Linked DNA regions of Homo sapiens: region 2 is linked to region 1. Evidence: fine-mapped expression QTL. A gene starts in region 1. The other region holds a variant in brackets. All regions are shown on one strand. Distances are from middle to middle.

Region 1 (15,393 bases):
AAAAGTGTGAGTAAGGTATCATGTGTAGAAGGTTCTAGACACACAGTACCACAATAAGCAGCTAGAGGAGGAAAACTGAGAAATCTGGGCAATCAACCTACTTATGAGTCTAAGGCTCAACAATTGCTCTTCTCTGTTCCAGCCAATCATCCAGCTTTTCAGAAGTCCTGCCTCCCAAACCCACTCCCTCCTCCCTCAGAGCACATGGCACCACAGCACTTGCAAGACTGCCTTAATATTCGCTATTATGTTGTACTTTTTTAAAGGTGTACTTGTATCTTATACTACACATAATCTCAACAACAATAACCCTATAGTATAAGTGTTTTTAATCATTTCTTTTAATATTCCTTCTCATCTTTTTGTTTGAGTTATCCGTGTCTGAAATTCAATATGGGTAATTTTTAATGTTTCCTATTATTTACAAATGTATTGCATAGACAGAAAATGCTCACAAGGCAGATTTTTATTGGGACATTATACAATCAGAAAGAAATAGATAATGTATTTTACTGATGGAGAAACTAAATACAGCAAATTTAAGTGACTTCCAGAGGTCCCATAGCAAGCTGCCAGTGGAATCAGATCCTTAATGTCTGGCTTCTGATTTAGAACCTTCTCTTCTATGACAGTTTGGTAGGTAGTAGGGATGGCACAGGAAAACGAGGGGCCCAGCAATGACAGTGGCTTTCTGGTGCACTAAGGATGGAGGTCTGGGCTGGCTATTTTCACATTAGCATCTTTTTCTGCTCCTGAAACTGCAGGAGAAGGAAATGGTGGCAAACAACAGTATAGGTCCAAGGCTGGATCAAGCTGACCTTTACCAACTACCTATCACAAAATATTTTACAAAATATGTCGCAAAAATATTTTCACTGCATTCGCCATGGGCTCTCTATATAGTGTCCTACATAGAAAGTATTCAAATATGTGTATGCTCCAGTGGAAGCAGAGGACCCAAAAGAAGGCTTCCAAAATTAGAAGAAACATTTACAGGATATGAAGAGCCACATTATTACTTATTCTGCATTTTAGGCTCATAGAGCAATCAAAAAGGGCCCAGGGGTTGTAACTTCTAATCAATGATAAAAATAGGAAGGGAAGATTAAAAAAGTAAGACACAGGAGAAGCAGAGGGGGGCCGGGATATCCAGTCCCATTTGCATGCAAATTACTTACCATACAAATGATTTTGCAATAATAGAGTAAAAGTTGCCAAATTAATCATTTCCATTTCCCCATTGCCAATGTCCAGAGAATAAGAAGAGACAATGATAGCCATGCAGACAGCCTACATTTTCACCTACAGTGGTCCGCAGATATGTGACTGTACTAACAAAGGAAGATTATGTGAATGAGAAAGTGATTTTTATTGCAAATAAAGCCAAAAATATTGTTTTTCCCTTTTACTCTTTTCCCAGAAATGAAAATTTCAAGGGAGGGGACAGCTCAGGCTGCCCCTTTTTTAAATAAAAAGGAGACAGGGCAGCTTAGGTGGCCCCTTTTCTAAATAAAAAGACAGTAGAAATCCTGTTTTGAGGCCTTGGGGGGTGAGATGGTGTATTACACAATTTCTCATTAACACCAGCAAGATTGCATGACTTGTGTTAAACAGAATAGGCATTTCACCTTCAAGCTCATGGGAAATAAGGAACAAGCTGCTTATTCACTTACTCATAATTACCGTTTTCGCAGGTCCCAGAGGAATTCTCTATCAGTCTCTGAGGACTCGTAGCTGATCGGGAGAGTACGAAAAAGGATTTTTTCCCCCAAATAAAAAAGTATCGCAGTTTCATCCATTCCTTGCAAAATAAGACGCGAGGGAGTTTGGTATTCGTTTTTGGTGGGGCAGCCCAGCAAGACCCTGCCTGGGCGGGGAAAGACCCCGAGCTGGGCGAAACCTGGGCGTCCCTCCTGCCTCTCCCACTGTCAGGTGTCACCTGGGCTGAGCTCCTTACCTTCCCTGAGTGTCTGCTCCTTCTGTTAAACGGAGCTAATGCAACTCACCTGGTAGAACTACTGTGGGGACAAATGAACTAATTATGCCAACTGCCTGACAGAGGATGAGCTCTCAATTAAAGGCAGTTATTACATTATTACATCATGGACGTTAAACTTCTCTTTCCCTTGCCAGGGCTCCAGGGACCCTAGGGAGGCCAGGCGTCCTGCTAGCTATTTAATACTACTTTGCATTTCACTGCTTTGCTGGCCAGCCACTGACTGAAAAAGACCTGTGCTTCCCTTCCTCAAGCCTTGACACCTTCGTCGGATAGTTTCCACCCTTGTCCAAACAGATGTTTGGCAAAGTCCGGTGTACTGGGGAAAACACTGTAAGAGGCTGTCTCTAAGAATCCATTGCGTGTAAAAGCTGGGACTGCCTGTACCTCAGAGAGATCTATGAGGCTCTCGATTCGAAGCATTTCATGATGCTCAGCTTTGGCAGATTCTAGGTCCAAAACTGATTTCACCGGAACATCCATTTCTAAGAATTGACATCTACACGCACTCCTTGCATCTTCAAGTCACTGGCACAAGTTAACTTGGACCAAGAATGAGATAATAACTGAAAGGTCAGAACAAATTACATTTTGAATTTGTACCTTAATGAAAAAGAAGCAAGAACACTACTGTTTCTTACACATAGAAACACTCCTATCAATAATAAGGAATACTTTCTTTCTAAAGGCTATTTGTGCTTTCAACGTGGACTTTTCAGTTCAAAATTAGGCTATGAGCACAGGACAGTGAAGACACAGAAAACTCTACAGCCTAAACGGAGAGGAGTATTTCAAGTTATCCACCAATCACTTACTGATTGGAGTTAAACAATTACCGAATAAACTCCATGTCCACTAAAGAAGAAAACTGGGACATTTTTAAAGATCAATTACATGTGGTGGCTACACAAACAGAAAGATGCAAACTACCATATCACCATGGAGACTATGTTTAGATAGTTCTTCAAAGGTAATCACTAACAAATTATTGTAAAACACCAAACATCATGTGTTCTATGCATTATGCTATATTCTATATTCATTCTTTATTATTCTATATTCTATGCATATAGAGTAATAAAAGTCATCCAAACGCTATTTGTTTGTGGTTAAATAAAATCTTCAAGCAAATACACTTCAAAGCAAACATCCTTCTTGGCTCAAATCTTTGTATTTCACACTAGTCTATAAGCTCCATGAAGGAAGGGGCTGTGGCTGGGTTTGTCATAGTACCCCGTGCCTGGCTCATAGAAATGGCTCTACAACTATGTACTGAATTAATGTCATAAACGGTATCATAAATGTCCTTTAAGGACTGTCAGTGCTCCTAGAAAATTATAAAGAATCTTTAAAATGTTGTTTCAGACCTTCCTATCATATTGTATGAATACTTTGAAAGGACAAGCTTTGCAATAGGTGATCCAACATTTGAAATGTCCAGTAAATAGAAATAAGACTCCAGGGGAAAGATGAAGTTCACATTACTCAACCGCCTTCAACTATATGTGATTTCAAGTCATCTGAATTTCATTCTGTTTTTTTTAAAAAAAAAAGAGTAACAGAGTAATACAGCCTACAGTAAAAGTCGTCTGAATCACTCCAGGGCTTAAGATGATGACCCTTTGTGGGCCTTTGCTTGTGAATTAGACCTTACTTAAATAAAAGTATTTCTTTTCCAACATGATGTAAAACAACTGGCCTGCACATCTAAATGCTCCTGTTTTAACTGGGCCTGCAAGGGAGGCTGTGGGTCACAGTTTACTACTCCCAGTAGGCCCCATTATCAGCTACATTAGCTCAACAACATTTCAGTAAACTAAAGCAGCTATACCATTTGGACAAACAGTCAGCTTTTCCAGGATTTGCACTCATTGGTTGGTTAACTGAATAAAGTGTCAACATAACAAAATATTTGCCTCTTGCCATCTCAGGGAAGCAAAATCTCCCCTGGGCAGAATGTTCCATTTTCTGAGACTCTCCTGTAATAGGCAGGAAGCTGCAAACCCAGTGTTTCATTTAAATTAGCTAGATATTTCGTTCTGATGCTCTTCTGTTTAAAACTGTGGGAAAGGCAAAGTAACTAAAATAAGGAAGCACAAAGAATAGTGACTGCAAATAATTTGCTGGAAATAAAAAAATCACTAGTGATAGACCAAAGGCAAATTAAAATGTATGCTTCTCATTCAGATACCAAAAATACAAATCTGAACATCTCTTTCAAGAATACCAAAAACTGGTGATCACATGGCTTCCTCTATAATGAAGCTGAAATAGAAACTTATCAGAAAACATTTGACCCGTATCCCTTTTACCAATAGTGTGAAGTCATACCAGCTATTTAAGTCATTAGGCTGGGGCATTTTAACATGCAATTAACTTTTTTACAGGATCTAGAAATTCCCCAACCCCCAACCTCCAAATCAAATAGGTAGGCCACTAACTGCCATCCAGTGGTAGAGAGAATTTTGCAAGATGTTATACCTGATAATCTCAATGTAACAGAATCCTAACACAGCACAAGGAGTGACTGTTACTATGTAAATAGCTACATTACAAAACTAAAGCCAAAGCCACTAAGATAAGTAGAAAACAAATTAGAATCTCAGGAGGAGGTTCCAATGGCCCAATTCGAGAGTCTATTTTAAAAAGAGCAACAGAGTAACAATTACTGAAGGGCTGTTTCCTAAAATTACTCTCTGGTTGGTATTTCTCAATTTTCAAATGTCATGAGAAATAATGCTGGCTGTCACTTACTCTGCCTTAAAAGAAAGCATTACCAAAGAATACCACTGAAAAACAAAGGCATTCATACAAGGAAGTGAACACCCTAAGTGCATAAGTACGTTCTTAAGAGGGACACTAAAAAAGCAGAAGTCACATTAAGTTCCAAACACCAAGAAAAAAAAAACTGAACAGAAGTTCCTAACTTTATTAATATTATATACTAGCCCCCCCCAAAAAAAAAACTGCCCATGAGTTGAGATTTATCAATTTTGTATATAGAAATACTACATATTTAGGACTCCCTGCCTTTGGGTGGTGGAGGGACACTAGGAAAGGCAAGACAAAAGAGGAATTAAGCCTTTTTCTACCACATTAGAAATGTACAGTTTTTTTGGTGAAATTTAGGTTTGATGTAGGCGTTCTTGTTCTCTAAGTAAGTTTCCCATTTGCCGGAAATTTTAAGCAGCATTGATTTTTTTCAATTAGCTTCAGATATGCTACACTCTGGAATAGGGGTGTTAAACTCACGACATTGCAGAAAGGTTTGCACTTTTCCCTCATTTTCACTACTTGGCATTGTCTATCAAAGAGTAGCACATCCTGCAAAACCAACAAGAGGCATGGGCTAAGGAGGAAAAGCAAGCTCAAAATACCTAGCAAGCATGTCTTCATTTGCACAATTTAGCTTTTCACAACAAATAACAAGGGGACTGGTATTTTCTGTATCATAGGGCTCATGGATGACTTGTAAAAAAAATCAGATGATGATCACTTAGCATTAGGTAACATTTAAGCAATCTTGGGCGCCTAACGCTTGAAGGACTGATGATTTCAAATGGACAATAACTTTGGTTTAGATTCCAATATTTTACAGAATTGCATGGTTTCAAATTCACCATAAACAAGATGCCTCTTTTGAGCATCAATTCCAAGAGCTATTTAGCATCAAGGAATCACATTAGCTGTACAACTCATGATGGTGTTAATTAGGAAAGGAGCTAGAGAAAAAAAAATCCATCACTGAAGCCTTGATACGTTATTTAAAACTCACTATTAACCAGACAAACTATTTTTTCTGGGGAAGTGCTAATGATATGAACTAGAAAAAATTTTACTAGTACCTTAATAATAAATCATTTGAGAGAAAATTGCAACTTGGTATGCACCTCACCGAGCCCCTCGCCAATTCAATCGGGCCCTCCTTTGATAATTTAACAACAAATTCCTGTCTGGAATCACCCATTCAAGTGTCTTTTTAAGTGACTCCTGTTTCAATTTTTTAATAAAGTGCCACCAGTAGATCTACAAGTTGAGGAAAGCAGCTCAGGTGACACACTTGGCACCAAAAAGAATACTGAGTGGGTCAAAATCCTGCCCGGGGACAAAATAGAAGAGAAGCCGAAGAAGGTGACTAGACTTAATAGACTTCAAGAAGAGCAAGTACTGAAAACAGCAGTTTAACTACCTCGGACAATAAGCAACAAGCCTGCAGTCCCCAGGTAAGCGGCCCAGAGGGAGGTGAGAGGATGGAGTTGGAAAGGGGGACCAATGAGCCCGGGAAGAAGGAGCGACCAGGATGGAGCGCAAAGCAGTGACAGGCAAGGAGCCAACGGGGACTACACCAATGCAACAGGAAGAACCACGGGGATGGGACAGGGCAGGACAGGACAGGGCTGGGGGGAGGGGGCGACAGGGATGGAGCTGGTCCAGCCAAGTCATAACCAGACCCTGGCTGGGGCGCTCGCTGCGCGCAGGGCGCCGCGCCGGGCACTTTGGAGCGCTCTCTCCCGGGGTGCCCCCCACCGGCCCTCCGATGCCCCATTTCAGAGACTGGAACGACGAGGCCGGCCCCGCATCGCCCGCTCCGCTGTGTCACCCGCCCCGGGGCAGCGGAGGCTCAGCGCCCGACCCTCCAGGAAGCAGGGGGTAGCTGGCGGCCGCAGGGGGCGGCGGCTTGGGGCCGGCGCCGGCCGGGGCAGCTGGTACCTGGGCTCCGGCAGGACGATCCTCTTGCTGGCGCGGGCGGCCGGGGTCGCCTTGCTCTTCTCCATGGCCATCAGGTAACTGACATCGGCCAGCACAGCCTCCAGGTCCGCCATGTTGGCGAGCTTTGGCGGCGGCGGCGGCGGTTACTCCGGACCTGGACGGGACGCGCGCCCGCCGCCGCCGCCCGCCGCGCCCCGACCTGGGGGGGCCGCCCCGGGGCAGCCCCCCCCTCCGCGCGCCCCCGCCCCGCGCGCGCGCCGCGCGCCCCACTAGCGCTCTGCGCGCGCCGCAGGCTGTAGCCGGCCGGGGTCGCAGCACGCCTCCCCGCTCCGCCCCCTCGCGCGCCGCCCGGCGCCCCGCGCACGCGCGCCGCCCCCTGCTCCTTCAGCGAGGGTCTGCGGGGAGCGCGCGTCCAACGGTCAGCGCCCCTCAGTGCACAGTCCCAGCGGCCTCGCTGGGCCGGCGCCTCCCGACCAAGTCTCTACGGTCGCCCTCCCCTCGGGGTGGCCACGAGGGACTCCTCCTCCTCTTCCTCCTCCCCTCCCTCCCCCTCGGTCTCCGCCTCCTCCTTCTCCTCCTCCTTCACTGCCCCGACCTCCCGCCCCAGGTTCCACGCGCTCTGATGCCCGCCCCGCTCACCCAGAGAAGCCCTGGGCCAGACGTCCACAACCCAAGGGGTTATGGGGAGGCCTCTGCTCCCTGGACACAGTAGTTCTCAAACTGGACAGTGTCAATCAGCATCCTCCGGGAGGTCTGGGGTGGCCCCGGAAATACATGTGTCCCACCTATCCCAGCAGGTAATGATGAAACTCCTGCTCTGGTCCGGGCTACCGGTGAACAGCGCCCAGCGGGCCGGGCCCCCAACCTCGCTCCTGAGCCTGAACATCCCCCCAACCCCACCGTGAGAATTCAGCGAAGAGTAAAAGCTGGAAAAAGTTGCGTGTCTTAGGCTAAGCAGAACAAAGTGGGGTGACGGCTCCCCGGCTAGGAACAGAGATGCCCTTAGGGAGCCCTCTGATGGAAGAGCTCTCCGCTTAAGAAGGTCACCACTCCCTTACACTCAGGTGAGAGGTTTTAGTTTGGGTGTTGAAATGGTGTTGAGAAATAGAAGGAGAGAGAGTATTCCTGTCGTTAGGGTTTTACGGTCAATACAAGAGACAATTAGGGAGCATCTGCTGCGAGCACACTCGCACCACGAGGGTGATTTAGGGAAGTGGAAAAGCGAGATACAGCCCAAACACCGAAGCTGGGGGGAATTTCCAGCTTCCTGATCTTCGGTCTCGGTGTCTTTCATCATCACTCCACCCCGATGCCTGGGGTTTTCAGTTGCTTATTTTTCTACAGTGTGCACACAAGTCCGCATTCAGGATCCATGTGACACTCAGGCTGGAGTGGTGGTAAGGGACACGCAGGCAGTCTTAGGAAGACCTAAGCTGGAAATTAATGTTTTAAAATCCCTTTCATTCACCTGAATTGGTCACGTATTTCCATGAGCCTAGACGTTGCTAGAATTTGAGTGAACGTTCTGTCCATAACTTACAGGGTTAACGGGACCCACCAGATACAGTTAAGGTCAAATTTCAGATATTTCATGTAATGTCATTGCAGAAGCAGCCTGATTCTGTCATCAAATAGCCTGTTTCCCTCTTTTGTTTTCTCTCCCACGCCACAGCCCCCCTCAATCTGATTCCCTGCTATGCCTGCCATCACCACTGGCCAGTTTTACCACATGCTTCTCAAGACCCAAGGCACAATAGGCATAAAGTTGTCCTGAAAAGGACAAGAGGAGTGTCAGAAGTAGGAATGGCAGTTGAAGGAGCTTCGTCTGCCAGCAGAAAGCTGAAATGACAGGCAAGCACAAAATATATTAAGGAGACAAAGCTATGCATGAGCGAAATATCAAACTTTCATCTTCTACCCACTTTTTTTTTTTTTTTTTGCTTAAAAACAGGAAGACAGAATGTCTTGTCAAGGGTCACCCCAGGAGGAGGAGTAAATTCCCCAAAAAGCGGAACATATTTTTATGATTTAATTAATACAATTTCTCTCAATGTGTCTGTTTATCATTTGAGCATCCACATGATCAGACCTGACATCTGCCTACATTTTCTTGGTCGTCTTTGACTTCAGTTAAGAACCTTTTGCTCTTTGTTTTCCCCCAGCAGCACAGTATATTAAGTTTGGAACAAGACACACCTGAAATCAAATCCCTGCTCTGTGCTGGGTGATCTTAGAGGCAGTCTTTTACCTCTTTCTACTTTATTGTTCTCATAGGAAAAGTGGAAATGAGGCCTTTTACCCCAGGGTTGTTGAGAAGACAGAGGAGAAAAAGCACATAAAAATGCACCTTGTCGGGCGTGGGGCTCACACCTGTAATCCCAGCACTTTGGGAGGCTGAGGCAGGTGTATCGCTTGAGGCCAGGAGTTCAAGACCAGCCTGGCCAACAGGAAAAATACATTAAAAATAATGTCTCTATTAAAAATACAAAAATTAGCCAGGTATGGTGGTGCACGCCTGTAATCCCAGCTACTCAGGAGGCTGAGGCAGAAGAATCGCTTGAACCCAGGAAGCGAAAGCTGCAGTGAGTCGAGATCGCAGCACTGGGCAGGCACAGTGGCTCACACCTGTAATCCCAGTACTTTGGGAGGCTGAGGTGGGTGGATCACAAGGTCAGGAGATGGAGACCATCCTGGCTAACACGATGAAACTGTATCTCTACTAAAAATACAAAAACAAAATAAGCTGGGCGTGGTGGCGGGCGCCTGTAGTCCCAGCTACCTGGGAGGCTGAGGCAGGAGAATGGCAGGAACCCGGGAGGCAGAGCTTGCCGTCAGCCAAGATTGCACTGCTGCACTCCAGCCTGGGCAAGAGAGCAAGACCCTGTCTCAAAAAAAAAAAAAAAAAAAAAAAAAGCATTTTGCCTGGCACCCAGTAGATCCTCAATAAAGGTCATGGCACTTCCTCTATTTATTTTGCTTCATTTTACCCTGGCATGCTAGAGAAGATACTGAAACTAGTTGTTCACAGTCATTACACTTGAAGCAGGAAGACCCCTTACCAAAAATAACATCTCCCTAGGGCATTTCTAGGAACCAAAATGGCAAAAACATTTGCATCTATAAACATGAGCAATTACTCTTTTGGCAGAAAGACCAAGGAGTCCAAAATTTGGTCCTCTAACTGAGGCCCCTACACCATTTGAGTCAGCTGACTCAATTACCCAGGGGTATTTTTTTCTGGTGTTCATAGTGTATGAATTTCTGTTCCCTGGCTGTCTCTTTGGTTGTCTCACTTTCTCCACCCCCTCTTCTTTCCCTTTTTCTTGACTCTCTTGATACTGAACAGCTTTTTGTGTTCACTGCAAACAAAAGGGGTTAATGACAGTGATGATGAAGTTGTCATAACTGACCTGCTGGATCCTGTTACTAAACACCATCCCCAGCCTGTAATCATCACAAAGAACAGAAAAAACAAATAGCAACCCATTTGTACTTAGCTAATAATGCTCCCTTGCAAATAATTATGTCTCCCACCCCCAGAGGATTTAAATGACTTGGGGCTCACGCTGCTTGTGATAATAGACAAAACTCCAGCGTTCCCACAAGATTAATAATGTTCCCTTTTCTTCTTTTCTATGCCTTTCCATCGTTACAGGAGATGTTGCTGAGATGGGTGCATTAAAGTTTAGGCTTTCCAGAGTTTATATTGCTAACAACTTGAAAGGAAAAAAGCTAACTAGAGAACTGACTGGTCTTATTTGTTTTAGATTCTGGGCTTTACTAAGACTTCCTACTCTCAGAATCTCTGGACTATAAACGCTGGGTGGGGTGGGAGCTGGGAATGTTATTCTGGAAAATTAATCACAAATGAAAAGAAAATCAACTCTAAGACTCCAGTTAGAAGATTTTTGAAAATGGCAGAACATGACTGGCCTTCATTCAAGTCAGAATATTTAAAGCAATCCTTGCTAAGAAGAACTTGATTTTGTATAAGCAGTCCCTTAAATACAGTTGCTTCTCAAGAAAACCACACACAATTGATGTTTGAATGGCTTTATTTACAAACATCTCACTCCGTAAGCCTCTGCAGGTATTTCTAGCCTCCCAGGGGCCACTGTCCCGTTTCACCTGTAATTTGGATCACAATTCTGTTTGTTGTCACACACATCATATGAACTGCTTTTCATGCTGCTTTTATCCACAAAGCTTTACAAGCTTTAATGGCAGCTCTATGTATGACAACTTTATAAAGATCTGCCAAAAGGTATGATGCCAAGCTTTGCTTTTATTAAACTATTAGCTATTAGCACTGAAACGATGTTCAGTAGAGAAGTACTCTCCTTTCAATATGTGAGTGGAAACACATTTCTCTATGGGGACTGCTGGTCAGGGACTCACTCTAAAGAAAAGCCACAGTGTTGTGGTTCAGAGCATGGGCTCAAAAGACAAATGGATAAGAAGCCCAAGACCAGTCCTTCTGAGCTGTGTGACCTTAGACAAGTTGTCTAATCTCTCTGTGTCTCAGCTCTGCCTCAGTGTTGTTAATGGGATTGCCGTGAGAGCAATGCTGTAACATGTAAAAAGCACTTAGAACTGTGTCTGGCACACAGAAAGCACTCGATAAATATTGACCTGGTTAGCAGCAGCAGCAGCCATCGCTGGAGCATCTCTACATCATACAGGGCCCGATGGAAAGAGACCAGCACTGAGAATGAACAGAACAGTGCTGGCTCTGACCCGCTGGCTCTGGCATTGCTGAATAACTCTAAGCAAGTCTCTTAAGCTTTTTAAATATGATTTTTCACCAGTAACTAATGAAGGGATTGAAGGAGCAGGTCCCCTGACGTCTTTTCAAATTCTAAAATTCTCCAGCTTTATTTAATCCTGCAGTGAATCCTTTTGCAAGGTAAAGAGTACTCGCTCCCCTCAATAACATCTTATGAGTTTAGGTTTCGGTGCATAGGGCAATACCCAGGGCATAAATCATTTCCACTGTCACCATAGCCCGCAGGTGAGGTGAGCAATCCATTAGCTTGCTTCTGGAAACAAGCCTGTCTGTATTTGTTCCCCCAGCATCTGCACTCAGCACACTGACTTTGCTCAGTATATGTATTGGATGGATAAGTGAGTAAATGAATGAATGACATAAAGATCATAGATTGCCTCAGCCTTCTATTGGAAAATAACCTAAAGGGAGGGGGAAAATTACTACTTAAAACCACAAGTGCCACTCAAGGGATGCCTCCTATGAAAGGAGGAGTGCTAACTGCCAGGTCCCCACTGGTTCTTCGTGCTGCTTATGGCCTGGAAGGCCTCTCCTGCAGCCAAGAGCCCTGATGTGCTTGGGCTGTGCAACGGTGAGTCTGGGGTGAGTCTGGGAACTTTAGGCGCAGGAATGGAGAGCGCTGACTCCCTTTGCCTAAGAAAGGGGACTTAGAGGGGAACTTGAAAGAGGGAGTAAGAGAGAGGGCAACAAGAGGGGCCGAGGCTAGGCAGTCCATGCAGCGGGTGCCAAGCCTGAGGTGGGGTGGTCTGGAAATCATTCCAGAACAGGAAATATGTTCTTCTGTCTTCTGTGCCATTTTAAGTTCTGTACAGCAATGCCTGCTTTTCCAGTGATCCTTACAACTTCCCAGCTTGTATTTGTGGGTACTTTGATGGAAAGTTGCAGGGGAAGCAGGGAACTAGGGCTGGGATCAATACCAGGACCAAGATAAAGGAACAGCTGTAAGAGCAAGAGAACAAGAACTAAGCAAAAGCAGGGAATTTGGGGCCTGCCATGATGATGGGAACGTGGGCTCTGAAGATCCACAGACAGCCAAGGCAGGCCTCGGCCTCTCCATGGGACTGGAAAGCTCATCTTGTCTCCCTCTCAAGGAGTAAGAAGATGACTTCTGGATACGTGAGTCACAAAAGGCCAGAACTTTTCTGCATCTCCCACGGCACCCCCTTACAAGGGCAGGTCATTTTGGGGCATGCCACCTGGGCCAGTGGCAGCAGGTACTGAGCAAATCCACCCCCCACCTCTCAGAGCTTGTCTCTTCCTGTCCTGGCCAGGTCTGTTTCTTCTCTCTTGATCAACAGAAATAACTCCCAAACTGCTTGGTATAGAGCAGTTCATGAATAGAGATTCAAACAGGTCACACTCAATTATGAAATCAGGGTGCCTGGGCCAGGCCTGGCATAACCCTGATCTCAGAGGACCACCCCTACCCTCCCCAGGGAGCCACCAGAGAAGCTGTCACATGCTCCTAAGACGTGCTTGCCACCAGCACCCCCAGACACTTATGTGCTGAAATTGCCAACATGCAGATTCGGATTCAGAGGTCCAATCAGGGCCTGAGAATCTGCACTCCTTGCAAGCCCCCAGGTGGTGCCAACACAGCAGAAACATTGACATCTTAGGCCCCACCACAGACTTAAGCCAAATCTGCACTGGAACAAGATGCCCAGGCAATCTCCCACCCTGAAGTTGTTCAGACTGGCCTCACTTAGGGGAGGGAGTTCCAGATTAGAGAAAGGTCAGATCAGCGGAGCCCAGATGGACAGCCACCAGACAAAGGAGGAGAGGAGGGAGAGGCAGGTCAGAGAGATCAGCCGGCCTTGATTCTGCAGCACCTGGAGCCACAGTGGGAAATTGAAGCTATCCTCGGGGCACCAGAAAGCCAGTGGAAGGTTTCCAAGAGGAGAGTGACAAAATCAGATGGACCATTTTATAGGATTCTTCTGGCTGGGGATGCAGATCCAGTTGGAGGCAGGGGGGGATAGTTGAATTAAGGGAGGCGCTAGAGAGAGCTAGGGTAGCAGTCCAAGAGACCCAGATGAGGGTAGCTGCAGTAAGCAGACCAGCACATCACTCATGGTCCAGGGTGATTTGCAGGCCTCTGAAGCAGCCAAGTACAAAACGAAGGCCCTCCCACTTCCCTTCTCCCTGGACCAGATCTCTCTGACTTCTCACCTGGAAGGTGCCCACAGGTTGCCAACTCCTTGTCCTGTTTCCAAACCCTCCCTCCTTCAATCCATCTGACACTCTCCTGCCCCTGCTCAAAAACCTTCAATAGCTCCCCATTGCCTGCCAAATGATCTGCTAACTCCTCCACCCACACTGTTATGTTCTACTTCTATGTCTGCCTAACCCGTGACACAGTAGTTCACACTTTCATTCATGCAACAAATATTTATTGAGTATCATCAATGTGGCAGGCACTAAAAAGAAACCACTCATCTGCCAAGGCACATAATCAATTTCAGGAGGCTTATAGCCACACTGAAATGCTCTTCCAAATAAGTGCTTTGGCTGTAGCAAATGAAAATAATAATAGAAAACACTTATTAAATACTAACTTTGTGCCAACTATCATGTTAAACACTTTGTGGGACTATCTTAATAATCTTCCTCAGACACCTATAATGGAGAGGGTTGGCCTCATTTTTCGTTTTGTGGGTTTTTGTTTTGTTTGTTTGAGACAGGGTCTCACTCTGTCACCAAGGCTGGATTGCAGTGCTGTGATCTCAGCTCACCGTTGCCTCAACCTCCTGGGTTTAAGCAGTCTTCCCACTTCAGCCTCCCAAGTAGCTGAGACCACAGGGATATGTCACCATGCCTGGCTTTTTTTTTTTGTCTTTTGGGGGGTGCTACCATGTTGCCCAGGCTGATCTTGAACTCGCGAGCTCAAGCAATCCACCCGCCTCAGCCTCCCAAAGTGCTGAGATTGCAGGCGTGAGCCACTGTGCCCAGCTGGTTGGGCTCATTTTAGCCAAAAGAAAAATCTCAAGTCACTTGCAACGTAAGTGCAACAACTAAATTCATAGGGTATGAATTCAGGCAGTCTCAACCCAGGACTTCTCCCTCAACCCCTGTCCTCTGAATGTCCTTGTACTCTAAGTCATGGGGCTGTGAGTGAAACAACATCAAATAAGGCATGTTAAAGTGCACAATAAAACCCCATTCAAATTCTCTTTCCGACTCACCTCATGCTAATCCCAAGTCCTCCCATGATGCCCGGGTCACACCGACCAAGCAATTCCAACCTTGAGGGTTTTGTCTTCCTTTTCCATTTGCCTGGAACACTCTCCTTCAAGGCCTTGTTTTGGCCTCTCACCATTCAGATCTCTGCTCAGATATCACCCCTGGCATCTCTGGGAGAGAAGCCACTGAGACACTTGTAGGCAATAATGGAAATCTGCCAAAAATTCTCTTGGTGGGCTCCTATCACGTTCTAAGCCCTTTTCTCCTGTTTCCTTTTTTCTGTCTTCCTCTCCACTTCCTCCCACCTCCCCTTGCCCCTTTAGCCCTTCAAGAACAAGTGCCTCTCTCTTCTCCTCCGTGTTCTCCTCCTTAATCAAAAGCTGCTCTCATCAAAAGATGTCCTGTCCATCATATACGCCTTAGTGTGAATTTGTTGGTAGGTCAATTTTCCCAGAAATGTCTGATTTATTTTTATTTTTTATTTTTTTTTTAATTTTTTTGAGACCAGGTAAGTCTTGCTCTGTCACCTAGGCTGGAGTGCAGTGGTGCGATCTCGGCAATCTCAGCACCCTGCAACCTCAACCTCCACCTCCCAGGTTCAAGCGCTTCTCCTGCCTCGGCCTCCCGAGTAGCTGGGATTATAGGCATGTGCCACCATGCCCAGCTAATTTTTGTATTTTTAATAGAGATAGAGTTTCACCATGTTGGCCAGGCTGGT
Region 2 (15,393 bases), 510 kb before region 1:
CCTGCCAACCTTCCCCAGATGAGCTCATGTACCTGTCCTCTCCCTGTCCCATGAATGCCTGTCGATGCTGACAGCTCATCCATGGGAGTTCTGGGTTCCTCTTCCCACACCCCATCAAGCCACATCACTCCAGTGATCAATCCCTTTCTCTCCCAAATCATAAGTGTTTCTCTTTTTACTGGATTATTCCCATCAGCAAATAAACTTACCATAACGTTCCCTTCTTAAAGCAAAACAAGTAAAAACAACAAAGAACTTTGACCCACATCCCACTCCAGCCACCATCTGTTGCCTTCAGAAAAAAAGTTACTCAAGAGTCATCCAGAGTTCTCCAATTCTTCCTTTTCCATTCTCCCTTGCATTCACTCCAGTCAGGGTGCCCTGAGACCTGTGCTGTCGGGATCACTGATAATCTTCATTTTTCCACATCCAGTGGGCCATTCTTAGGCTCATCTTACCTAAATCAACAGTATTTGTTACAACTGATTGTTTGCTTCATCTAGAAATGTTTTCTTCACTTGGCTTCAAGTGAAGCCACTTAGCATAAGCATGCTACTGGCTTCCCTCCTCCCTATGTGGCTGTTCCCTTCCCATCTCCTTCCCTGGCTCCCCCTCATTGGCTGAATTCTACACACTCTACACAGAATCTCAGGACTCTGGACTCTTCCCTGTGTACACTCATTCATGCAGACTGGGTCTCATCCAGTCTCCTAGCACTAACTACAAGCTCTACCCCAAAAACTCCCATATAAAATATGTATATCTCCAGCCTCAGTCTCTCCCTCGAGCTCCAACCTATATAGTCCTGCTCATCATCTTCCACCTGGAGATGTCTACTAGGCATCCAGCCTAAGGTGTCCAGCCCCCTGCACACCTGCACCTCCCATGTCTCATGAATGACAACCCTATCCTTCCAGCTACTTGGAGTTCATTTCGCTGCTTCCTTTTTCTCACTCTGTACATATACTCCATCAGGAAATCCAGACTTCTCAAATCAGCCAGACTCTGATGACTTGCTAAAACTTTCATTGTTATTATTCTGGTCTAAACTGCCATCATGTCAAATCTGGATTATTGTAGTGGCTTCCCCTTGGTTCTTCCTGCCTCCATCTCTGTCCCTAGCATTCGTTCTCCACATAGCAGCCAACAGGATCATTCAAAAATGAAACATTTTATGTCACTTCTCCACTCGAATTTCTCCAATAATTTCCCATCTGACTTGGAGACAGAGCTGTAATTCTTACCATGAGCTGCAAAGACCCTGCATGATCTATCCTCCACTATCTCTATCTTCCTTGCTCATTTCAACCAGCACCTGGTCTCTTTACAATTCTTTGAACATACCAGCCACAGTCCTGCCCCGGGGCCTTTGTGCTTGCACTTCCCACCTCCTAGAATGTGCTTCCCCTGAATATTTGCACAGCTTACTCTCACTTTCTGTTATCTCTTCTTAAGTCTTACCTTATCAGAGAGACTTTTTTCTGAACACATCATGTAAAATATACCCATGCCCCTACATACATATATATCCTGCCAGGAGAGGCAAGAGCTCGTGGAAATTATTCCAGCTCCCATGCCCAGTTGGTGGGAAAATATAAAGTATGTTTTTTGAAGTCTCTGCAAGGGTCTCCAGCAGAATTGAATTTCAGCTGCCCACAGGAAAACCCACTCAATATCATGTCCTTGACTGGCTTTCTTCTCTTTCTTGTCTCAATTTCCCACTCCCTAATGATGCTTTCTTGGATAACCTCCTAAATAAATGACCTCCCCTTGAACCTTCCACTCAGGATTTTCTTTTAGAGAAAACTACACAAAGTCCCACTTTTGTGTCAATTATATGACATGATGTATATTTATCAATCTATTATCTTTGTCATCTGTCTCTTCCCACTGGAATACAAGCCCCAAAAAGATGCACCATGCTCTCCTCTTGAGATGGCTGGTGGGTACTTAGCACATATTTGCTCAATAGAAGAGTTAATTTATTCATCTGACAATTAGTTCTTCAATGCCTATCTTGTGCTGGGCTCTCTTCCAGTTACTAGGGATACAGTGGCAACCACAATGAGTAAGGTTTCTGTTCATAAGGAGCTCACATTCTGAGTGGATAGATGAATAAACAGATGGATGGATGGATGGATGGGAAGATGGGAGTGGAGGGCAAATGGGACCCACTACAGCCTTACAGTACCCAGCATTTGGATACTAAGGAATCATATCTACTCAAGGACATTTTGCAAATAGCCCCTCATGACCTGTGCTTACTTCTTCTACTCTATTACCTCTACCTCTTAGCCATGTCCCTGCCAAATGATTTTTTTCCCCAGAAATTCTTGTGTATTTTCTCACTTCTGGACCAGTGTCCTGTGCCTGCTCATGGCCTTTGCAGACCCCACTTCACATCCTCTAATGTCTTCTCTGCCCACTCTGGTGCTGATGCCATTCTTCTTCTGGTCTGGGACTTTCAAGGCAATTCTGCCCAAACTCTACATGCAAGGTAATGATCTTTCCTCATGCACTGTTTTGAGTGTAGTGTGATTTGAGTGTGTGTTCATAGGAAATTCTTTCTTGCTAATGGAAAAGGAAGGCAAGGTGAGGAGTGTTCCAGCCTTTCAGATGGGACTCACATGGAGTCCTAGCACCTCCTAGCTGTGTCTCCTTAGCCAGTGACTTCATCTCATGGGGACTCAGTTTACTCATTTGTTAAATATGGATGGGAATAGTTCCCCTCTGCCAGAATGCTGGATGATTCAAATGAAATTATGAGTGTAAAGAAGAATTTTTATTCAAATCCTGGCTCTGTCTCCCACTCATTGTGTGACCTTGGGTAAATATCTTCACCTGTCTGTCCTTTTGTTTGTATAGCAATAAAATGGAGATAACTGTGAGTGCTTTATAAGGCTGTTTGAGAATTACAGAAAACCATGCATAAAAAATGCTTGGCCCAGAGTCTGGTACATAGAAAATGCTTAATAAATTCTTACCATTATTATTTTTCTAAAGCCTTTGAGCTCAAAAGCCATAGTGAAATAACAGCCACCAAGCATGCTGGGCAAATCTCTAGAACATCAAGCTGCTCCAGTAAAATGCGATGTCATCGGTGATAAAATCTAGCCTAGAGATGCTGCAGTTCTGGAGTTCAGAATCTTCTATTCTTCCCTGGGCATTTTGCTTCTCAACAAGCACTTGAGAAGCAAGCCAAGCTTCTTCAATTCTGGGGAAGGCAACTGCTGGAAAGCCTAGGGTAAAATATGAAAGCCTTCCTCTTCACGCTTATCCTGCTAGCAATCTTAAAGAGGGCAACACACCACCCTTTTATCTTCATCTGCAGATGAATGTAAAACACGCTTCTTGGGGGATGATGAATGGGGGAGCCTGCTGAACAGATCAGTTCCCCTCCAGAAGGTTGAGGCTCTTTTTGTGAAGGAAAATACATCATCCAAAGGCCTGCAGAAAAGGGGAGATTCTAGCCAGGAGGGGGGGAAAGAATGATGTTGGTCCTTTTCAATAATTAATTTCATTTAATCTTTAGGAAATTTTACTGGGAAATATATCATACCTAAAAAAGTAGTGAAAATCTATATATACAGTTAAGGAATAATAGTAACATAAATATCTGTGCACCCACTATTTGGCTCATGAAACAGAACATTATTAATAATTTAGAAGCTTCTAAAACATATCACTACCCTGAATTTTGTTTTAATCATTCCCTTGTTTTTCATACAGTTTAACCATCTTGTATATGTTCCTAAATCATGATAGTAATCACAAAGGTAATAACAACAACTAGTCAAAAATAATAATAAGGGCTAACATTTACATAGTGTTTGTTCTGTGCCAGGTACTCTTTTAAGTATTTTACATATATTAATTCATTTAATCCTCACAACAACTCTTTGAGGTAGGAACCACTGCTATCTTCGACATTCTTTAAATGAAGAAACTGAGGTACAGAGAGGTTAGGTAACTCATTAGGGTCACTGAGCTAGAAAAAGGGAATACTCAGTCATGAACCCACTTTTGGCCCCAGAGTCCATAATGGCTATGCTCTCCTGTCTCTCAATATAGCATTAGTTTTGATTGTTCTTGAACTTTATATACATGGACTTATATATTTTGGATTTTTATGGGATTTATCTCTTTGAATGAATATTAAGTTTCTGAGATTCATCCCCATTAATGTGTGTAGCTGTAGTTTATTCACTTTTTACAGCTGCATAATGTTCCATTATACCCATTCTCCTCTGATGTGTGTGCCTGTAGTTTGTTCATTTTTTACAGCTGCATAATATTCCATTATATCTATTCTTCTATTGTTAGAAACATGAGTTGATTCCAATTTCCCATTTGCTCTCTGCAGAGATCCCACCAAGTAGAATATGATCGTCTTGGTTTTACGGACCAGGAAACTGAGGCTGAGAGATGGGAAGAGGCTTTCCCAGGTCACAGCTGGCATATGCAGAGAAAGACGTTCAACTTGAAACTACCAGCTTTCAAGCTCTAGAGCTTTCTGTTGTTCTGTGCTGAGATATCAACTGCTAAGCACAGCCTTTTAAATCTGAAACTATGGTGCTATTTTTAATCTTTTTCATAAAGAAAAGTCTCTAACACCTCCCTTCTTTTCCTTCTGGGAAGAGCCACATTCATCCTTTCATATAAACAAATGTACATATGTTTGTAAACATACATACATGTAAATGACAATCCCTGAGTTAAGTTTTCTGGATAGAGAGATAAATAAGGTATGCCTGGCCTTAGAATTTCTCTGAGTGGGAAATTCTGAGGGAAAAAGGACAGACATTCCTAACAATAGTTAAAGTGTTAGGATCTAGAAGCACAAGGGAGGAAGCAAAAAATCAAAGAAGACTTCCTGAGGCTGAATAGGAGTTATACTGTTAGGCAAGGGAGGGCATTCCTGATGAGGAAACAACATCAAGACCGTGCAGTAGGAAAGTCATGGCATGTTCAGAGAGTGGGGAGAAATTTGGGGTGCCTTGAATGTCAACTGAGGAGAGAAGGAAGCATCTAAAGAGAAAAGTCCTATGTTGAGTAGTCCTGGATGCCAGGCTAAGGTGTTTGAACATGGTCTTATGAGGATGATTGTCATTGAGGGTTTCAAGTTGTGAAGGTGACAGGATAGGGCAACTGTTTCAGAACAATCTCATGTCTGACATGGAGATTAGTCTTGGGAAATAGTCATGGAGCTCCCCTTTGGAGAGAATGAAAGTCTAGGATCCCATTCTGGGCAGTGCTGAGGCTCCAGGCGGGAATTCAAAATATGTGTTTATGATCTTTTATTTTTTTCACGATAATAACTATACACAATGTGTTTGGGATGTACTCCATTAACTGGGTGAGTCTGGGAAAATGATTTAATCTCTCTGTGTTGTGGGTACCTTATCTATAAAATGAGCATAATAATATCTCCAAATAATATAAAGAAATTTTATGACAACTAAGTGAATTCATACTTGTGAAGCCATTAGAACTTTGGCAGGCACACAACCCTCAATATTATTGAAAGTTTTATGCTGTCATCATCGTCGTCATAATCATCATCATCATCATCATCATCATCACATTTTTAGGGCACAAAACCAGGCTTTGAAATATATTTAATGATATTGCATCTTTTGACTATCCCTGTGGAGTGGGTAGCACATTTTCCTTCATAGACAGAACAGAGTTTTGAGAGGTTGAGAGAGTTGCCCAATGTCACCGGAATCAATAACAGGCTTGCAATCTCAATTCATATCTTCTTCTGCGTTTTCAGCCATGAACACTTACACCCACTCTCAGGCCAGGACATTGTTCTATGCCCTACCTGGAATGTGAAAGGCCTTGGAAATTATCAACAATTTGAACTCTGCAATATCTCGGTCAGTACCTTGGACAGTGATGGGCATTCTTAAAGAGTTAAGCACTTAAGTCACAGAGCAACATTCCCCTAATGTTCATTCTAGCATAACCACTATCAGCCTTACCACAAATTAAATAGCATCTTCAGGGGGAGTCTGAATGCCTCCTTACTCACTTTATAATTCCGCAAGACATCCCCCCAGTCTACACTCTTCTTGTTTATCTTCAAGGCTAGTTTTTTGTTCTGATCACAGTGGGAAATATGTGCCCAGTTACTGAGCAGTTAATAAAGGCCAAAACTCATTTTCTCAAGAAATAGCGGTAAGATTAAAGCTGCAGAGTATAAGGTATCCTTCATTATTCAGGAAACAGGCATATGCTTGAGGGAGGATGGGGCTGGGAGGAAGATATGAAGGAAAGGGTGAAAATTACAAAACATGTTGGCAAACTCATGGGTTAGACCATTAAGATTACAAATCCAAAAATTCCATCTGATGGATTTCAGGGCCAAAACATGAAGACCAAGAAGAGTGAATCCCTTCAAATAAGCCCAAACAAGCCCTTGTTCTA[A/T]ATGTCTTAGACTAAGATCAAAGGACCCCAACAAGGTCTTCCAATGACTTAACTCAACCTCTACTGAATCCAGAATTCTCTTCTTTGATGTCCTTCTCAGTGAAACTAAGGAGGATTCACAGATGAACAATATAAATGGAGCAGTCTCTCTCTGTAGCATCTCTTATTAATGTTCAGCATTTGGACTGGTTCTGGCCACCAGGAGGCTGTTTGGATGCTCCTGGTGGTCTGGTGGAGAAAGAACCCAAGCTAGAAGCTGGAGACTTGGGCATGATACCAATTTTGTCTGTTACCTGAGCCAGTTCTCTATCTTTTCTGGGCTTCAGCATCTGTATCTGTCAAATGCAGATAATACCTACCTTGGTTTCTTTGGTGGAGTGTGTGTGTGTGTGTGTGTGTGTGTGTACGTATGTGTGTGTCCACATGTAATCATAGATTGAATGATATAAGCACTTTGAAAAAGTAAACCCAAAAGTGTATAGTTCCCTTGTTTAGCTCTGATCACAGATAACTTAGCAATTATCTGTTTATATGTATTTCTTTCCCAAATGACAATGTGCTTCTTGAAGGTGGGGTCTGTATCTCATTCATCCTTGACTTTTTAGCACCCAAAACAGCTTCTTGTACAGACTGGTCCTCGCTAAATATTTGTGGAACAAGGGACAGGATAACCAAATAGTGTAGAGCACAAGCTCTGCATTAGAAAAGCAGGGTTATGTCTTGACTCTGTCACATCTCAGCAATGTGACCTTGGGCAAATCTTGTAACCTCTGCCATCCCCAGTTTCCCCATCTGTAAAAGGGTGCTGGCCACCTCAATGGGCCATTGGGAGTAGTAAATGAGGACATGAATATAAAACATTTAGGAGAGCTCTTGGTATCTAGTCAGTGGTCAAGAAACCTTAGCTAACATATTTATCTTCTGTATTCTAATTTTTGTGTTGTGAGCCATGAAGGGTGTCATGAAGGAGCTTAACCACTAAGTGAGCGCTCTGTCATTTTTTGTGTGATTATCCCAAATCTATTGCAATCTAACTGCTTTGTCTACCAGTGGATATACAGAAATAGCCATGACAGTCTCCAGGTGCTGTGGAAAGGTGGGCAGATGACAGTTGGCTCTGTTGTTGTTCTGCTTAGCAACCCCATACCAATTGCTTTCCATCTCCCAGCCTTGGTTTCCCTAGGTAAAGAAGTAGCAAGAACTGATTTCTGAACTCATCCCACTGTTTCTAAGCACCTTGAATAATCTCTGTGCTAAAAAGAGGTCATCCTTTCAGAAACCCCTGCAGCTGCTCCCAGGGAGGATGTTGGCGACCCAGTTCAAACCCAGGATGCCTGAAAGACACAGTTCAAAGCTGAAACAGAGACATGCACTCCGCATTTCATTTGAGGACATCTAAGTGGGAGGGCTCTCCTGAATCACACCCTCATCACCCCAGGGAGTCATTTTACCTGAGTAATACATTTTCCTGAACTGGGTACTCGCTCTTTAAAGGAAGTCATCAGTGGCTGTAATTCAACAAGAAGACCATTGGTGCTATACTGAAAAGTAACTAGAATCCATTTTCTTTCGAGAAATAGGATGCCTGCTTAGGGAATTGAGAAAAAAAAAAAAGCGAAGTAGGCTCTTCTTTACCTCCTTCACAAATTAGACAGAGCATGCAAATCTCGAGGCATCAGCAGTACTGGAAACTGGGGTCTCTTTGTATAGCCTCAGCAGGAACTGAGGATATACCAAACGACACTTGAGAGTTTTGGCTCAATTGCGGCTTTGCCGTGAACCAGCTATGTGACTTTGCGCACATCCTTTCCTTTTCCTGAGGCTGGGACTCAGTTGTCTACTCTGACACTGGCTTTTTCTGTCCTAACACAAAAGTAAGTAAGAAGAATTGTCCAGGATGGGTCAAATGCCCCTACTGTGAGTCCAGTACTGATCTGGGTGCTGGAGATGCAATGTAGTTCCTACGTGCCTAGAGCTGATGTCTAAGGAAGCAGAGATATAGAAAAGTAAGTTAGAATAATATTGGCAGCAGGGTTGGAGGAAGCACAGATGCCTTGGGGGAGATGTGGGGAGGGCTGTGTGTGTGTGTGTGTGTGCATGTGTGAATGCATGTATGTGTAAGTGCAGGTGTGTGTGCATATGTGTTCATGTATGTGCTTGCATGTGCATGTATGTATATTTTAAGAGGAGTCAGAGAAGCTTTCCCAGAGGCTGGGTATCTAAACTAAACCATAAAGAAATAGAATTAAAATTATCATTTTTGTGAGCACTTACTATATGATGGGTAAAGAATTATCTCATTTAACTTTTTAAAACATTTTTTGAGGCAGGTAGTATTATCATTATCCTCATCTTAGAGATGAGGAAACTGAGGCCCACACAGGTTAAGTCATTTGCCCAAGGCTGCACAGCTAAGAAGTGGCAAAGTTGGAGTTTGAACTTAGACTCTTAGGCTTCAGAGCCCATGGACTAATCAGCCACCACACTGCCTCTTAGTATGGAGGCTGGTCAGACAAATAGAATGGCAAGAGGGAGCGCTAGCTGGAGAGAACAGTTCATGCAAAGGTCTGCACATGATCTACAGGGTGGTGAGTCTGAGGAGCTGGATGCTGTGTATATTGCCTAGAAGGTAGTGTGTAGGGTGGGTGGAGAGGGTCAAAGAAGCAGTTGGTGGCACCAGATGAGGCCAAAGAGAAAGGTAAAATTTATGCTCATGCCTGCAATCCTAGCACTTTGGGAAGCCAAAGTGGATGGACTGTTTGAGCCCAGGAGTTTGAGACCAGTCTGGGCAATATGGTGCAATGCTGTCTCTACAAAGAATACAAAAAATTAGCTGGGCATGGTGGCGCATGCCTGTAGTTCCAGTTACTCAGGAAGCTGAGGTGGGAGGATCACTTGAGCCTGGGGAGGTCAAGGCTGCAGGGAGCCGAGATTGTGCCACTGCGCTCCAGCCTGGGCAACAGAGGGAGACCCCATCTCAAAGAAAAATCAAAGGTAAAATTTATACTAGGAAATAATAAACCAGAACTTTGTCCTGGGGCAACAAGGAGTTGCTAGAGTTTTCAGCATTGGAGAGCTATCATCAGACTTCTTGTTTCAAACAATCATTCTGGCTACCCTGTTGAGAGTGGAATTTCCCTGCCCAGTGCTGATGGCATGGGACTTTTTCAGGAGACGAAGTGAATTGTCACCACAGAGGAGAGCAGTACTCAACTACCATCATCCCACCCACACTCAGTGTCATCTTCTCTCCATATATGACCCAACAAGCTTCTGTGTCATCATGGTGACAACATCTCACAATGGGTCACACCTGTCACACAGGGGCCCATGAGGGTTTAGCAGGAAAAGAGCCATTGGCTACTTCCTGTTCATTCCTAGTCAAGGTTTGGGAGAGGTATCCATTGAGAAAGAATTGATAATAGTTTGGAGAAAGAATCAAAGGCAATGAGTGGCTACTCAATGAAAGCAACTTCGACATTTGGTTCTGTATGCAAATTGTGCTCCCTGCCAGATTGATTGGTGATAACTACTTTGGAGCTTTAGTTTTCTCATCTGTAAAATGAACTGGTTAAAGAAGGGCAGTATTTTCCAAAGCATATTCCAACTTACTGATTTACAAGATGCTCGGGGGGAAATAATTTTATGACAAAATAAATTTAGGAAAGGCTGCTTACTGTGGCCCCCTTTAGGTGCTTCGTATGATGCTTTGGCACATTAAAGGCTCTGACAAGTTCTGTAGAGAAGACATTTGCTTAATCTACAGACTTTACACTTGACAATGGACTCTGATGTGACATCTCTGAGCATCACATCAAACCAGTGACCTACAGTATCCACACTGGGGAAATGTGAAATAGAGGATGCATAACTGCTTTCCTTGCTCTAGGAGTTTCTAGTTTGAGATAAAGAGCTCCTGGATGGCAGGAATAATACCTCACACAGTGGTGCTGATAAAATATTGCATGAAAGGAAGAAGTTCATGATTGCTTCATGCCTGTGGATAATCTAAAAAGAATCCCTAATCTTTCTATTTTACCAGGTGCTGTATGATGTACCTGGTAATTCTTATAACCATTTATCGATCACATACTATATGCCAGATTTTGAGGGTGCAGATATAAACAAACTAATTCTCTGTTCACCAGCATTTCCCAGCCTCTAGGGGACCTGGCACTAAACAGCAAGTGCCATAACAGAGACCTATGCAGAGAATGGTGGATATTGGGCTTCTTTTGTTTGCCTTTTTACCCTTTTCCACCCTGCTCTGGCCTCCAGACCCTGATCCATATGGACCATGTCAGCAGACTTCCTTGTCTTTTTGCTGCCTGTTGTTTCCAGCCAATGAAAGGCAGCAGCAAGATACTGGAGAGTCAGAGAGAAGTGAGGTTGAGATTTTATTCTCTTGGCTCCCTCCTTGACAGGTCACTACAGTGTGGGTGTGTCCCTTTTTCAAGGCTCCTGCCAGGGAATCTTGTCTATACTTCTAGCCTCTGTGAATGTTATAATTGCTCTTCCTCCCTTTGCAGCTTCAGGACTAGAGGTAGTAACAGCTCTCCAGTATTGCTGGTCCCAGGTGCTGTACTATGCTTTGTCAGTTTCCTTTAACCCTGCCCATTGTAATGCACACTCCATTGTAAACAGTCTCTTAATTAAAGTCTCCTTATGGTGTCTAGTTTGAGTGTGGCATTTGTTCTCAATTGGGACCCTGACTAATGCATGATATGAACATAGAGAGTGGTGTGGTTGATACACAGAGGTGAGGCAGGAAGCTAAACCTCAGGAGAGGAGGGTGATGATTAGTAAAAGTTTCACAGAGGAATAAACATGAGAGCTGCATTTTGAAGGCCAACTAGGAGGTTTCCCATAAGATTTTATATTGATGAGAGATGCACCTGAACAAAGATATAGGGGTAATCAAAGGTAAAATCCACGCCAGGAAATAATAAGTCAGAACTTTGTCCTGGGGCAAGGAGGAGTTGCTAAAGAGGTAAGCTTTACAGCAGTAAACTTTAAGAATAGCTTAAAGTTAAATGATGCTGGCTCTTCCAGAAAATCATTCTCCCATGTCTGAAGCTGGCCATCTTGGAGGATGTGAAGGTAACCTCTGGTCACAAATTCTTCAGGATTCAATGACAAAGATGCTGCAAATAAGCCCTGGTAGCTCTGAGATTGCAAACAAATAGCCTATAGGCAAGATTGGAAATGCAAAGAGTTATATTGGACCCACAAAGATCTTTGAGAAGAAAACTCAAGGCAACACTTACAAATTGAGATAGCGTACTTCAAAACTCTGACTTCTTAAACATGAAGAGAGAAAGAGATAGTCTGGCAACACCATGCTTGCATTCCCACTTGGCAGCAATCAGTTGGAGCTGGGATGCTCTCTCCAAGGCTAGCATAGGTCCTGTAGTTTTCCACAGTCCCCACCACTCCCTATTGACCTGGTCTTTGTACTGTTCTCCGCAAAGCTCTATAAAAATTATCCACTGAACTCTATAATGATTTAGATTGATAACCCTGGATATAGAAGATACAGCCCCATCTATAAATTCTCTACTGTTCCTTTTCCCTCTGCCTGTGCCTTAGTTAAACAAAGAACTTTTCAACACTCTGACATGTCTTTCTCTGGATCAGTGTCTGGGAAAGGCTGGAGCATGTTTTTGCCTCACCACCTTTGTGCAACTTACACACAGCCTTTTTCTTAAGTGGGCAGAAGGTGGGTTTGATCTGCCTCTCATGATCAGAGCTGGCAGGATTTTAAAAGACTTCACCAGAAAAACGCTTGTTCTTTGATATACGATGCCAGCCCCAGAAGGACTCTGGGAGCGTCAAAATCATCCCCCTCATTTTACAGATGGGGAAACAGATGGAGGTAATGGTAGGACTCACACAGGCCCACACAGTGAATAAGGGGTGGAGTGAAAGAGAAGGGAACCAACATTTGGTGGCTCACTACTAGGTGCTTCATAGGGGAGGGTTGTGTTCTTTTCATAATCAATTAGATAGTTCTTAATTCCTTTTTACAAATGAAGTGATGAATGCTTGGAGAAAATGAGTAAGATATCAGAGGTCACATGGTCAAAATAGTGTAATGTTTTTGAACTTAGGGGCCCCAGAGTCAAATAATGGGCATAGGTGCCAATATCAGCTCTGCTACTGACAAAAAAGAAGTCACTGACTCATTCCACTGACTGTTCCTAAAAGAACACTCCAGATTTCTAAGCTCACAGAGCGAAGTTGTCTTGGACACTAAAGGGTTATCATGACAGGGACAGTCTCTCCTCTCTATAATGGAAGCTACCATAGTGTGACATTGAAATGGGACAGCCTAGGTTCATAACCCATCCTTCCATTTACCAGCTTTGCATCCTTGACTAAACCACTTCACCTCTCTGAGCCTTAGTGTTCTAATCCCTAAAATGAGAACAGGATGTCTCTCAATGGAGGGGGGGTGGTTAAGAAGATCAATGCAATAATATTGTAAAGTGCCTTGGAAATCGTAGACTGTGCTTTAAAGATTTGGTCCTGCTTGGGTTGGCGGGGGGTGTGGTTCTCAAGACCATCCACTGATTTACTAGAAGCACTCACAGGACTTAGCATGCAGTTGTACTCATGGCTAAGGCAACACTATAAGGATTCACAATCAACCCAGTAAAGGAAAAGACACAGATAAGGGTCTGGAAGCCATGTGCAGGCTTCCTATGTTCTGTTCCTCCTATGGAAGATCACACAGAACACTGTTTCCAGTAGCAATAATGCAGGAATTCATTTGTAATATTTATAATGCCCAGTGTAGCCAGTTTGAGATTTAGAGTTTAGAGTGGTTTTTAGGGGCTGCTCATATCGATTTTTCTGTCTAGCAACAACCAAAATTCCAGACTCTCAGAAAGAAAGCAGGTGTTCACCATAAATTACATTGTTTCTATAAACAGTCAAGGCACAAAGAATCAACCTTATCAGTTAGGGAATGGAGGAGACATTTTAAAAGCCAAGTTCCCAGATGCCAGCTAAGGAGCAACTTGCAAACAGGCCTTTAAAAGATTACATCCTCAGCCTTGCTGTTTTAATTCTTTTCTGCAAAGACTCCCTTTCGGAACACTTTTGCTCATTCTACAAATCTTTTTGAAGCTTCTATTCAGTTTCTGGGACCACAAGGCTAGATGTAGAGAACAGAAAGTTCTGAACTCAAGAAATGGGCAATCTTTGGAAGAACAAAGAAAAAAACCAAAGCAGTGACAATATAAGACTGTGCAGGACAGGAAACCTGTTGGTTTTTTCTACCTGTGCCCTTTCCCTGTTTCTGGGATAACAGTATCCCCTCCTTCTCTTTGGAGAACTGCACCACCATCCACCCAAGAAATTCTCTGCTAAGACTGTCAATCGCAGATGACCATGGACACTTGCATATAAGCCAAGCCTGGCCAATGACATTCTATTGGCCACCAAGGGACAGAAAGTAGTTGAGACTGTGTCACCCATGGCAATGTCGTAGAGAGACCATTTGCCAACTCCTGCTTTTATGGTCCCTAAAGCTTGACTGGTCCATGCCCTTTCAGAAGCCTGGTGGTTTCTTCCAATAACTCCTTGTTCTGATTCAAATGAGCTAAAGTTGTTTTTTGACATTTAGACCCTAGCTGGAACCTGCAGGAGAAATGTCTTTGCTGGAGAAGAAGAGTATTGTGGGATATGTATCAGGGACAGCTATATCCTAACAAAATGTAAAATGGGAAGGGATGGCACTGAAATTGCAATCACTAAGATGGGCAGGGAGCATATTCTATGTGCAGAGAGTATCATACCCAAAGGCCCAGGAGTGTGAGGGTGCAGAATGAGTTTGAGCAACTGAGAAATTCAGCATCTGAGGTGCTGCCTGGAAGCAGTTGGGGTAGACAGTTTTGGAGATGAGATGGGGTAAGCCAAACCACTGAAACTTGCATGCCACTTGAGGGAGTTTGGATTTTATTTTGCAAGCAAGCATGGAAAGATGCATATTTTGGATAGATTATGCTGACTACAGGGTGGAAGCCTCATGAATGGACATCTGGAGAAAGCCATTATCAAGATCACTTTATCAGAGAACTTTTATGCTCTTATCTGCATTCCTCTTCATCCATTCCAGAATGAGGGAGGGCAAAATCTATCTCCATTTTTACAGATGGGAAAGTAAAGAACCACCTAGAGGGAGACTAGAGCTACAACATGATGAAACGGGGTCTCCACACAATGACTCTTGATCTGGAGGGTTTGTCATTGCCGTGAGTAAACCAGGGTCTCTCCCTGTGTACCCCGAGGCAAGCCAATGGGTCTAAAACTCAAATGATTCATAGGCCTAGCAGGTAACAATAAATGAGCATTTATTTTTATGCATCTCTTTATTTACTGGCCATGTGGGCCAGTAGGGGTGGAGATGGGAATGAACTGCTAGCAAAAAGGGGGAAGTGTGACTAGATATCAAGGGAAGGTGGAAGTCTGAATTTTATGTGAAATGTTCTTATTTTTAAGCGCTGTGCTGGTCAAACTAAAACATTCCCACCTGCAGGCCACAGGTCTTCAGCCCCTACGTTAAATTTCCACCAAGCCCCAGCTAGGGTTGCCAGATTTAGCAAATAAAAATAAGATGTCCAGATAAATTTGAATTTCAGACAAGCAATGAATAATATTTTAGTATAAGTGTCTTAGTCTGTTTGTGTTGCCATAAAGCAATACCTAAGGCTGGGTAATTTATAAAGGAAAGAGATTTATTTGGCTCCTGGCTCTGCAGGCTGTACAAAAAGCATGGCACTGGCATCTGCCTCTGGTAAGGGCCTCAAGCTGCTTCCACTCATGGCAGAAGATAAAGGGGATCCTGCTTGAACAGCAATCCCATGGTGAGAGAGGAGGAAAAAGAAAGAGAGGGGGGATGTGTTAGGCTCTTTTAAACAACCAGCTCTTGCAGGAAATAACGAGCGACAGCTCACA

Direction of the effects. Positions count from the first base shown, and alleles are read on the strand shown. Sizes are in standard deviations (SD) of each study's normalised expression.
As copies of A replace T in region 2, the expression in breast of the gene that starts at base 7,185 in region 1 goes up (moderate effect, 0.68 SD a copy in GTEx).

The links.
Region 2: its variant is fine-mapped to the expression of GRK3 in breast (GTEx, PIP 0.98).

What each region holds. Positions count from the first base shown.
Region 1 is chr22:25,556,467-25,571,859 of GRCh38, reverse strand. GRK3 (G protein-coupled receptor kinase 3) reads right to left here and starts at 7,185. Exons shown (of 21, transcript NM_005160.4): 1 at 6,707-7,185. The coding sequence starts at 6,819. It overlaps GRK3-AS1 (GRK3 antisense RNA 1), which reads left to right and starts at 6,444. Exons shown (of 4, transcript NR_183564.1): 1 at 6,444-6,780; 2 at 7,501-7,770; 3 at 8,379-8,557; 4 at 10,362-10,972. RefSeq lists enhancers at 4,511-4,690, 5,973-6,488 and silencers at 6,600-6,849, 7,160-7,259.
Region 2 is chr22:26,069,704-26,085,096 of GRCh38, reverse strand. No RefSeq gene overlaps it. Among named protein-coding and RNA genes, the nearest start is that of LINC02559, 75 kb to the left of the region's middle. The variant A/T (reference allele first, on the strand shown) is at 6,433.